2 separate regions of the Homo sapiens genome follow, and region 2 is reported to be linked to region 1. The links are microRNA targets in miRTarBase. Many come from high-throughput screens and were not tested one by one. Region 1 holds a microRNA gene; the other region holds the end of a gene's coding sequence. Distances are from middle to middle.
The links. Region 1 holds the annotated microRNA hsa-miR-548f-3p (AAAAACUGUAAUUACUUUU, at 1,651-1,669, opposite strand). A microRNA usually pairs through its seed, bases 2 to 8, with sites in the 3' UTR of a target mRNA and lowers its output. Matches are read on the target gene's strand: a 7mer-m8 pairs with bases 2 to 8, a 7mer-A1 pairs with bases 2 to 7 and ends in A, and an 8mer does both.

Region 2: miRTarBase lists CRPPA as a target of hsa-miR-548f-3p. Seed matches in the 3' UTR shown: 7mer-m8 at 3,753-3,759.

Annotation. Positions count from the first base shown.
Region 1 is chr7:147,376,391-147,381,792 of GRCh38, forward strand. MIR548F4 (microRNA 548f-4) reads right to left here and starts at 1,731; the gene lies at 1,627-1,731. All of the region lies in intron 9 of CNTNAP2 (contactin associated protein 2), which reads left to right.
Region 2 is chr7:16,087,098-16,092,499 of GRCh38, forward strand. CRPPA (CDP-L-ribitol pyrophosphorylase A) reads right to left here. Exons shown (of 10, transcript NM_001101426.4): 10 at 428-4,702. The coding sequence ends at 4,598. Among named protein-coding and RNA genes, the nearest start is that of CRPPA-AS1, 120 kb to the right of the region's middle. RefSeq lists a silencer at 4,674-4,874.

The DNA.
Region 1 (5,402 bases):
GTCATCAGGGAAGGTTTCATCGAGGAAGTAGGGTTCATATGTTTTGAAAATGTTATCTATTTGAACACTCTGTTATCAGGTACAGACATATTTAGAATTTTTCTAACTTGTAGTGAATTTTACCTTTTTTCATTGTATACTAACCTTCCTTATCTCTCAGAGCGCCTTTTTCCTTGTGTTGTCTTAAAATATTTTTTGACACCTCATTTTTCTCAGTATCAGTGAGTTCTCTGTGCTTCAGAGTGTTATTCTATGCTCAATAATTTCACGTGTATTTACTCAGTTCATCCTCATAATAATACTATGAGATACAAACCATTATTTCCTCTATTTTAGAGGTAAGAAAAAACATGATGCACAATAACTTAATAACACAACTGGGGCAATAAATAGGATCAAATTCAGACACCAGCACCTTGAAGCCTGAACCTCTCCACACAGTAACACTACTGTATATTACAAATGATCTCAATACGTTTATACTATAGCACTAAGATTGGTATATGATTGTAACCATACTAATTTTCTTTTTCTTAAAAAAGTTGTATTTGCCTTAGTTACCTTTCTCAATTCTTTTACTTTCAAATTTTCTTAGTTCCTGTGTGTTAGACATGCTTCTCAGAAATAGTATTTTGCTAGATTTAAGAAAAAATCAATAGTTCTGTCTTTTCAGTATAGTATTTCTTAATATATTTCTACCATCTTATTTTGCTTTTTCTTTTTGATTTTCCTTTATTCCTTCTTCTCCCCCCCCTTTTGGTTGATCAAATATTTTTAAAATATCGATTTCCCCTACAATTGCTTTGAAATGTATGTATGTCATATCTAGTATTTTAGGGATTATCCTTATTTTTTTTCAAAAATACTTATTAAATTCCAACATAGCTTAAGATCTTGATCTTTCTCCTGAACATAATCCTAATCACAGTATTTGAAACTTACTTCTAATCACACCCTATCATGCTATAGTCTACTTTTTGTCCTGAGTTTTAGTTCTCTTTTTTAACTTTAATATTAGTCATTATCACTTTTATAATTTTAGTTTATGTAGTCAATATAGTTTTAGATTTTACCACATTTGCATATTTCTTCTGTTATTATGTCATCTTGTATTTCTCTCTTTTCTGGACATAGTTCCATTCTTTGACACACATCCTTTAGTTTAGATGGCTTTTAATGGGAATGTGTTGGTACTAAGGTGCTTCTATTTTTACATTTTTAATTTAAAATTTTTTCATTTTTTGTTTTTCTGAAAATATCTTAATTTTACCATCTTCCCTGTTTATTTAGCTTGGTATACAAGTCTATGTTGAAAGTTTAGTTTCTCTCAGTACTTTGAGTATATTATCCTACTAAATTCTACCTTTTGTTTTCACTTTTCTTAAGAAGCTTCCTGACTGTTTTAAAATTGTTCCTTAGGGATACTCTCTCTTTTCTCCCTTGCTACTTTTATGTTCCGTGGTAATGTGCTGTTATAGCATGCTGTGTTTAGTGCTAGATTACCTTTATAAAAATGTTTAATTGGGATGTATTGTCCTTTCTGAATCTGAATTTTTAAATGTTCTGGAAAATTCTTAGATGTTACGTATTTTAATTGATTCTCCATCATTCTCCCTTTTCTCTCCTCTGAAATTCTATTAATATTGTTCCAAAAGTAATTACAGTTTTTGTCATTACTTTTAATGGCAAAAACCACTATTACTTTTGCACCAACCTAATACGTTAGAACTCATTTTTATACTGTATATTGTAGAATTTATATTTAATGTTTCTAAGTTTTTTTAAATTTCTGAATGACATTGTCGATATTCAATCTACCTTTCAGTTTACAAACTCACTCTGTAGCTTTGTCTCATCTGCTTAATGCAACTAATGAGAGGTTTTTTTCTTTAAAAAAATTTAACTTATATTGGTATATAATAGGTCTATATATTTATGGGCTACATAAGAATGTCTAATAATTATATCAGGGTAAATGGGGTATCCATCACCTAAAGAATTCATCGTATACACAACAGAGTACTATTCAGCCATATAAAAGAATGAGATCTTGTCATTTGCAACTACATAGATAGAACTGAAGGACATTATGTTAAGTGAAGTAAACCAGGCACAGAAAGACAAACTATGTGCGTTCTCACTCATTTGTGGGAGCTAAAAATTAAAATAACTGAACTCCTGGAGATAGTTGAATGATGGTTATCAAAGGCTGGGAAGGATAGTGGGTAAGGTGGGAAATGGTGACAGTTAACGGTTACAAAAATACAGTTGGATAGAATGTGTAAGATTTAATGTTTGATAGTACAACAAGGTAACTAAAGCCAACAATATTTTATTTTACATTTAAAAATAACTGAAAGAGTCCAGTTAGAATGTTCATAACTAATGCGTTTTTAATTCCAATAATATATTTTTAATTCCTGGAGTATCCATTTATTTCCTTATCAACAATGACTGGTAATTTTTAAGTATTATTTGATATGGTTTGGCTGTGTTCCCACCCAAATCTCATCTTGAATTGTAGTTCCCATAATCCCTACATGTCGTGGGAGGGACCCAGTGAGAGATAATTGAATCATGGCAGCAGTTCCCCCCATGCTATTCTCACAATAGTGAGTGAGTTCTCACGACATCTGATGGTTATAAGGGACTTTCCCTCACCTTTGCTCTGTACTTCTTGCTGCCTCCATGTGAAGAAGGGTGTGTTTGCTTCCCCTTCCGCCATGATTATAAGTTTCCTGAGGCCTCCCCAGCACTGCAGAACAGTGAGTCAAACCTCTTTCCTTTATAAATTACCAGTCTTGCCTATGTCTGTATTAGCAGTATGAGAACAGCCTATTACAGTATATCTTATTCTTTTCTTGTATATTTAATTCTCATTTTACTTCAAATAATTTATGAATGTTTTATTTCTCAATCCCCAAATTTAGCTGAAATTGAATTCATGGGGGCCAAATATTCCATGCGGTGTTTCTGCTGAATTCTGTTCATTATACTTGTTTTCTTGAGTTTTATATTTTTGGATTGTGAGTTTAAATTTTTCAGGGCTTTGTCATTAGTAATCCTATAATTCCAGAGTGAATCCAGAGAGGGGTTACACTTTATTTCAAAAGATACCAGCTTGGAACCATTTTTTCTATTTTAAGTTCTTGATTTGGGGGTTATATCCAATAGTCAGTGTAAATTCAAAAGCTGTAATTTAATTCAGCAAGTTTATGGCTTATGCATTCTCAAGAATCATCATTTTTTTTGGAAAAAGATAAAATACAGACAAATTTCCTTGTCATCCCTCTTTGCTGACTAGTTAATTTTTCTCCAGTGTCTGCTTTACTGTGAATTTAGCATTTTTAGGTTTTATGTGGTGGGGCTAGGGGCGTGAGGGAGTTCCTATTCTTTGCACAGGTCTATTACTTGATTTCTAATTCTGTTTGGCCTTGAAATCCAAAATTCTGCATTGTAAAGATTAGTAAATACCCTCTGACTACTATAGCCCACCATCAGCTAACACCCTGAATTTCAGTGTTCTCTTTTTTTCTTGATACCCAAAAGCTTCTCCTATTTTACTGGATGCTCAGATATATAACTTAAAAGATGTATGTTACATTTTATTTAGCATTTCTAGGTGTTTGAAACTGGAAAATTTTCAGGCTCCCATGTTGCCTCGTCCTAGGAAATGTAATCCTTAGAGATTATTGTTTCTGTTTCCTATTATGTGATGTGACATTACAGAATGTTAAGTATTTTAAATAAATTATCTTATATCAGAAAATTTATGTTATAAACTTTTGGGGTGCAGTTAATATTTTAGAAATGTTTTCAGATACAAAAAGCCATGTTTTAAAATATCTCAGAATAGACATTATAATCTTGAAAAAAAAACCCTGATTTTTATTGAAGGGTTTTGTTATGAATGAAATTTGGAGGTGCTCTTGTAGCATTCTGCATTTACATTCTAGCATCACGCTTCATCAATAAACATGAAGACATTTGTATAACATGTAAAACCATCTTATTTATACCAAGTGCAGAAAATTGAAAAGCTTCTAAAGATTATATCAAGAGGAATAATAATAATACAAACAATAACAAACACCATAACAACAAAGAAAAGAAGAAGCAGGAGGAAGAATGGCAGTCACAGGCTCCTATTTTAGGCCAAGCACACTCCTAAGCATCAAAGCCAAAAAAAAGGCAGAAAAATGTTAAGGTGACAAAGGCAAGAGCCCACGCTACACAAAGCATTTCTTGGCTCGCCAATTTCAAAGCAACTCCTGAGATAGAGCCTCACAATCTGGCTTTGCTATTGATTTGAAGTTAATATCAAATTAACAGAATACCAAAATATATAGTCATATATAGAAGCATTCCAAAGCTAAATAAAACTGTGTTTGATTTCCTACTAGTTGGGATTGTCCCTATCATCTTAATGCAGATAATTGTGAGTCTAGTTTATATCCATATTTTACTTTTCCATCTGCAATGATACTAATTTTTTTAATAGCAGAGCCATCCCCCATATGAAAGTATTTGGAAAATATATAGACTTTCAAAATGACAATATAGACGAGACTAAGAAATTATTTTCTGGGTTTTTTTTTGTTTTTTAAATAGAGTGAAAAACGAATCTCTCAAATACAAAATATTTTTAAACGTGAGAAACTTGCACGCTACTCCCTCAAAGCTGTCTAATTCAAGCAAACACTAAATGACACTGGCAGAGCTGATTGAGCAGCTGCTGGGTGTCAGTCACTGTACTAGGGGCTTTTAATACAGTGTTTTATTTAACAGTTTACAAAAACCATAGGAATTGGGTATTATTAATTCCTGCCTTACAAATGAAAACACTGGCGTTAAGACAGGATGAGTGAGTTAGTCAGGGTCACACAAATACATCTTAAACCAGTTCTGGCTATTCTGCAGCCCAAGCTTCCAACCACCGGCATTGTATTTTTCAGAATATTGTATAATTTCATAGTAATTAAGCAAATGTTTACACTTATAAGAAAAAATCAGTAAGACAATATTATTTTATGTTATGACTGTATCTGCCGATGTTTTAGATATACTAGCAGTTTGTGGATATAAGGAATTAAAGTTATCTGATGTAAAAATTATTTATTTTATATTTGCATTTTCTCTATTTATCAATACACAACTAGGTCATGAAAAAGACTATGTAAAAAATATATGAAAGTGTCAAATTATTCAGTTTGTTCATCCTTTTATTGTGGCCCCTAGGCAACGATGGCTTTTTAAATCATTTTGTATAATTTGATTTGCAAATTGCTAAGTATCCTAGTTTGTCAACATACTAGTCTGCTTCTCTAATTTCTTTTCAATTTTACGTTCTTGTAAATCTCTTTACGCTTATTAAAAGATACTCAAAAATATCACTATCTTTT
Region 2 (5,402 bases), 130 Mb from region 1:
TTATTTCTGAGCAATAATTCAACTCATTACAGAGATTAAGTAATCACAATACTTCTCTCCACTGTGCCCAAGTATAGGTTTTATATCCTTAGCAGCCACTATAATTGCTAACAACTAGGAGAAGAAGAGGAAATCTATTTAAGACTTCTGGTTTCATAATCAAATATATATATATATGGTTATATATATATGTTTATACATGTAATTTTATATATATATGTGAGTACTATAAAATATATATATTTACATACATAGGTATATATGTGTATATATATATATATTTAGAGAATATAGATCTGGACTTCAAATTATATCTTTATATAATATAAACCATCACAACGTTATATTCTGAGAATGTTACATTTAGTGATTCAATTGTGACTGAGTTTGAAAAAACATGTATAAACTAAAAAAAAAGAAAATGCCATTAGATTTTAAATCAATAATTTATTTACATTTTGTTTTGTAAAAACAACATATTTAGAATCTTTATAGTACTTTTCAATGTCACCTTAAAAATATGCATATGCTTCTTACAATTTTGAAACTGAAATTAATAAGAACATATATAAATGCAACTATAATGCCAACCACCACCTACACAGCTACTTCTAGTCCACTGATTTTAAGCCATACTAACAAATCCTATATCAATTAAAATGCTTCATTATTCTGTTTTCAAATTAAACTTTCTAAATAACTTCTATCTTTCTTCTTGCATATGGTTGACATTTTAATTAAGATGTTAGATTTATGCCTCTGTGAATTTGTAGTTTCAACATTAAAACAAAGTCAAATTTACAGATTTTAAGACATTCTGTAATTTGATTTTTATAAGATGATCACTGTATTTACATAAAGTTGAGTTATAAGTTAGGGAAGAAAAAATTTCTGTTAAATTAATGTAAAATACTTACAATAATAACCATAACAATGACTCTGAGAGAATATAGGGAGCTGACTCTTACCTGTAAATGAGTATACTTGCAACAAGTCATCTCAAATTGAGCACTTTTATGAAAAAAAATAGGACCTCTACCAAAATGTCATTAATCAAACCATTACTCACGCTATGATGAACTCCTAAGACGACTAACTTTAATTTGCATTTAACTAACTAGCGTAAGTTTAGAAAGAAAACCATTTTGCAACAAAATTTCCCACAAGTGGAAGCATTTTCAGAAACCTTGAAGCATAATCACTATTATTTTTTAAGAGATTTTGGAAAATAAAGTGAGAATAGACAGCTTTTACTAAAGTAAATTTACAGAAGCAGTGATGAAAATGTAACTGTAAAGTTACCTCTGGATCTCTCTTTTTTTTTTTTTTTTTTTTTTTGAGACGGAGTCTTGCTCTGTTGCCCAGGCTGGAGTGCAGTGGCGCTATGTCGGCTCACTGCAAGCTCCGCCTCCCAGGTTGACGCCATTCTCCTGCCTAAGCCTCCTGAGTAGCTGGGACTACAGGCGCCCGCCACGATGCCTGGCTATTTTTTTTGTATTTTTACTAGAGACGGGGTTTCACCGCATTAGCCAGGATGGTCTGGATCTCCTGACCTCGTAATCTGCCTGCCTCGGCCTCCCAAAGTGCTGGGATTTCAGGCGTGAGCCATCGCGCCCGGCCAGATCTCTTAAACAACAAAATAATTTCTCTTTTGGCCAATACTTCTATTCATTCCCTTAACTTTAGCTACAATTTCTTTATGCTGGGAAGGTGGCTGGAAAGCCAAAAGCTCCAGGACTTTCACCTAGTCCCTGGACATAAGTGTCCCACCCTTCTTGTCCATTTCGCCAATGTTCATTCAGTGCCTCTGGCTTATATATCACGTCTTATATATCAGACGTGGCTTATATATCAGATGTCTTTGCCAGGGGTCATTGTTAGACAGGAATATAAGCTTAACACTTATTATCAGTCTTCCTTATTTTAAGCCCAAACTTTTGTTACTATTCAGTCACATGATTTTGGCAAGGTAACTAAGATCCCTGAGCTCCAATTTCCTCATGAAAATAGTGAAGGATGTGCAGATATATATACATATAAAATACATATACATAAAACATAAAAATACATATATACGTACGTATATACATATATGTGTGTATATACGTACGTATATACATATATGTGTGTATGCGTACGTATATACATATATGTGTGTATGCGTACGTATATACATATATGTGTGTATGCGTACGTATATACATATATGTGTGTATGCGTACGTATATAAATATATGTGTGTATGCGTACGTATATACATACATACATGCATGTACATATATACGTATATATGTATGTACATAATGTGTATATATGTACGTACATACATATATGTGTATATATGTACGTGCATACATATATGTGTATATATGTACGTACATATATACGGGTATATATGTACGTACATACATAGATATGGGTATATATGTACGTACATACATATATATGTATATACATGTAAGTATATACATATATATGGGTATACATGCATGTATATACATATATATGGGTATACATACATGTATATGTATGTATGTATTTTTTTTTCCCAATGCTGTGAATTGCTTTGCCTGCTATGAAGGACCAAATGCTATTTTTTCCAGGCACAACTTAATATTTTATTAACTAAATTATACTAAATGTTACCAGTTGCCTAGGGTAATGTCATAGTAAGTACTCTGAGATAAATTCTTGTCTGCTGTAGGATTCCTTAAGCTGAAGTCTATGTTAACTCAGCCAGCACTCCAGCGATCAGGGTGATTTTGCTGTGCCACAAATATGCCCAGTTTACTGCATTCTTCTTCAAGGCACTTACCCTCTCTTTAAAGCCTTGATAACATTTCCCCTTCTTCCTTTATGAGCACTTTCAAAGTCTTAAACATTTTCACCTGATGACTTCAACAGGTGCATGTTGGGGACTTGGCAGCTGTGGTTTTCGTCACACACACAGCCGACATCTGAACAAAGGCACAGACATTCCTAACCACAATCCACACATTGCTTACCTATTTCCATCCTCAAAAACTTAAATTAATGGATTTTAAATTTCTTAATATTCCTAGAGAGAGAAAAAGGGCAGGCCCAGGAATTTAGATACAAGCCTACATTCAAATAACACATTTCAATTAGGAGAATGTAAAATATAAACTCTCCTACTATATATATACTTGAACACTAGAGGGAAAATCACCCAACATGTTAAATAAAAATTCCACAAGGTAGATATTGTATAGTGTATCTTTAACTGAAAACACTTCATGCAACTTTTATAGTTTCCACGTGCAGCCTAAGCCCTAATCTGTTTCAATAAAATAAATGTATGTTGGCTGGGTATGGTGGCTCACACCTATAATCCCAGCATTTTGGGAGGCCGAGGCAGGCAGATCACTTGAGGTCAGGAGTTCAAGACCAGCCTGGCCTACATGGCGAAAACCCTTCTCTACTAAAAATACAAAAAAAAAAAAAAAAAAAAAAAATTAGCCAGGTGTGGTGGCAGGTGCCTGTAATCCCAGCTACTCGGGAGGCTGAGGGAGGATAATTGCTTAAACCCAGGAGGCAGAGGTTGCAGTCAGCTGAGATTGTGCCACTGCACTCCAGCCTGACAGAGGGCGACTGCATTTCAAAACAATAAAAAATAAAATAAATAGAGTAAGTGTATGTATAGATTAAAAGTCACCTCTAATGAATTAAAGGACACCCATAATTATAACATGCAAGGGAAAATATTAATATTTCAGATGTATATACCAATGAAAACTGGAAATAAGAACTTGATTTTAAAAGGTAGCAGTATCTGAATTGAAATAACTAATTTAACTCTATGATGTACAATAGATTCTCTACCTTATAGAAGATAACTAACCAGGGATTGACCAGAATCACCTACGAAACTTTCCAGACACTTTTAAGTTCATTCAGAAAAACTAGAGACCCTTTAAAATAATGTAAGTCATAATTATAGTTCATAAACCAAAAATAACATACAATTTAAAAACAGAAAAGAAGGAAATGACATCTGTTTTAGGGATCTTGAGTAATATGTGGCAAATGGGGAAAATGCTAGAAACAAACAGTTCCGTTCCCTGGTATCCCACTCACCCTTTTTTATTAAAGTGTAGACATTTTTAACACAAGACAAAAAGACAAAATATCACCTGGTGACAGGACAATTATAGAAGTGAGAATAATTCTGAAGTTTATCCATTAGCTTCATAATAGTGTAAATTATTAATTAACAGTTAGGATAATAACTGAAGTTTTCTAAATTCTCATTCCTTGAAAGAATAGCTCACCCCATCATTATTTCTATTTGACCGTTCATGTCTCTGTGGAAAGATTCATTTGAAGGCTATTATTTTCCACTTATCTACTATTTTTTTCTGGTTCAGGCAATTAATATTTGTCATACACAAAAGTATTCTTTATTTCACAGATATAAACATTAATCTGCTTTATAATCTAAGCATCACATCCTACAAATTATAGAGAAGATATAAAAGACAACTGAAACATTCTACCACACACAGCAGCGGGGGCACAAAGCACAATTAAGATACGCAAATAGATGTTTTAGAAAATAGGTAATTTTTTGTGTTCTTCATGCTATCAGAAGCTGACCAATGAGTCCAGAATTTCTTTCCTTGATTAATGAAGCAATAATGATAGCACCTTGCCTTAAACTCTCCTGTAGCTTCTGATCATCCTGAAAAGAAAGGATAAACCAGTAATATTTTAGAAAAAACATATGCCATGTGTTAAGTTTGATAAAAAGCCACTTTTCAAGATCTGCTGCGGTCTGGATTTGGCATTTTAGAAACTCAGACTCTAGCCACTGTCATGGACACGGTTCCCCGAATAAAGAGGAAATACTTTCACAAACACTTTTCATTATAGACCAAAAAATATTTGCTTAAGATGCAAGGAAAAACACTGACACAATTTCAAATGCTAACAGAAAGAAAAGATTATTTCCCCTTAATCCAATTTCTGACAACCTTTGGCTCTTCACTGAAGTGTGAATATTTCATCAATGATGCAATCCTTTTCTTCATCTTGTTTCTGAGTGTTCTCCAACTTTGTTATGAACTGTTTGTGAGTACCGGTATAGGGGGGAAAACCCTGCTTGCTGTTTGTAAAGTAAGAATCGGGAAAATTCAAGAAATGAGTTATTTTACAAGTTGCTAAAAAGTGGTTTTGCCTTTGAAATCATATTGCCTGTAAGAATCCATTTATTCTAATTATTTATGAGAAGATTATAATGTGAAGGGAAAATAGAAACAGAGCTAATATCTTTCAGGTCTCTGTGTTGTGAATTGTGCTATCTTTTAAAAGAGGGATGTGGTAACCAATCTCTAAACTCCAGAATCATCCTTAATGCCTTATCCCAATATCCAATATATTAC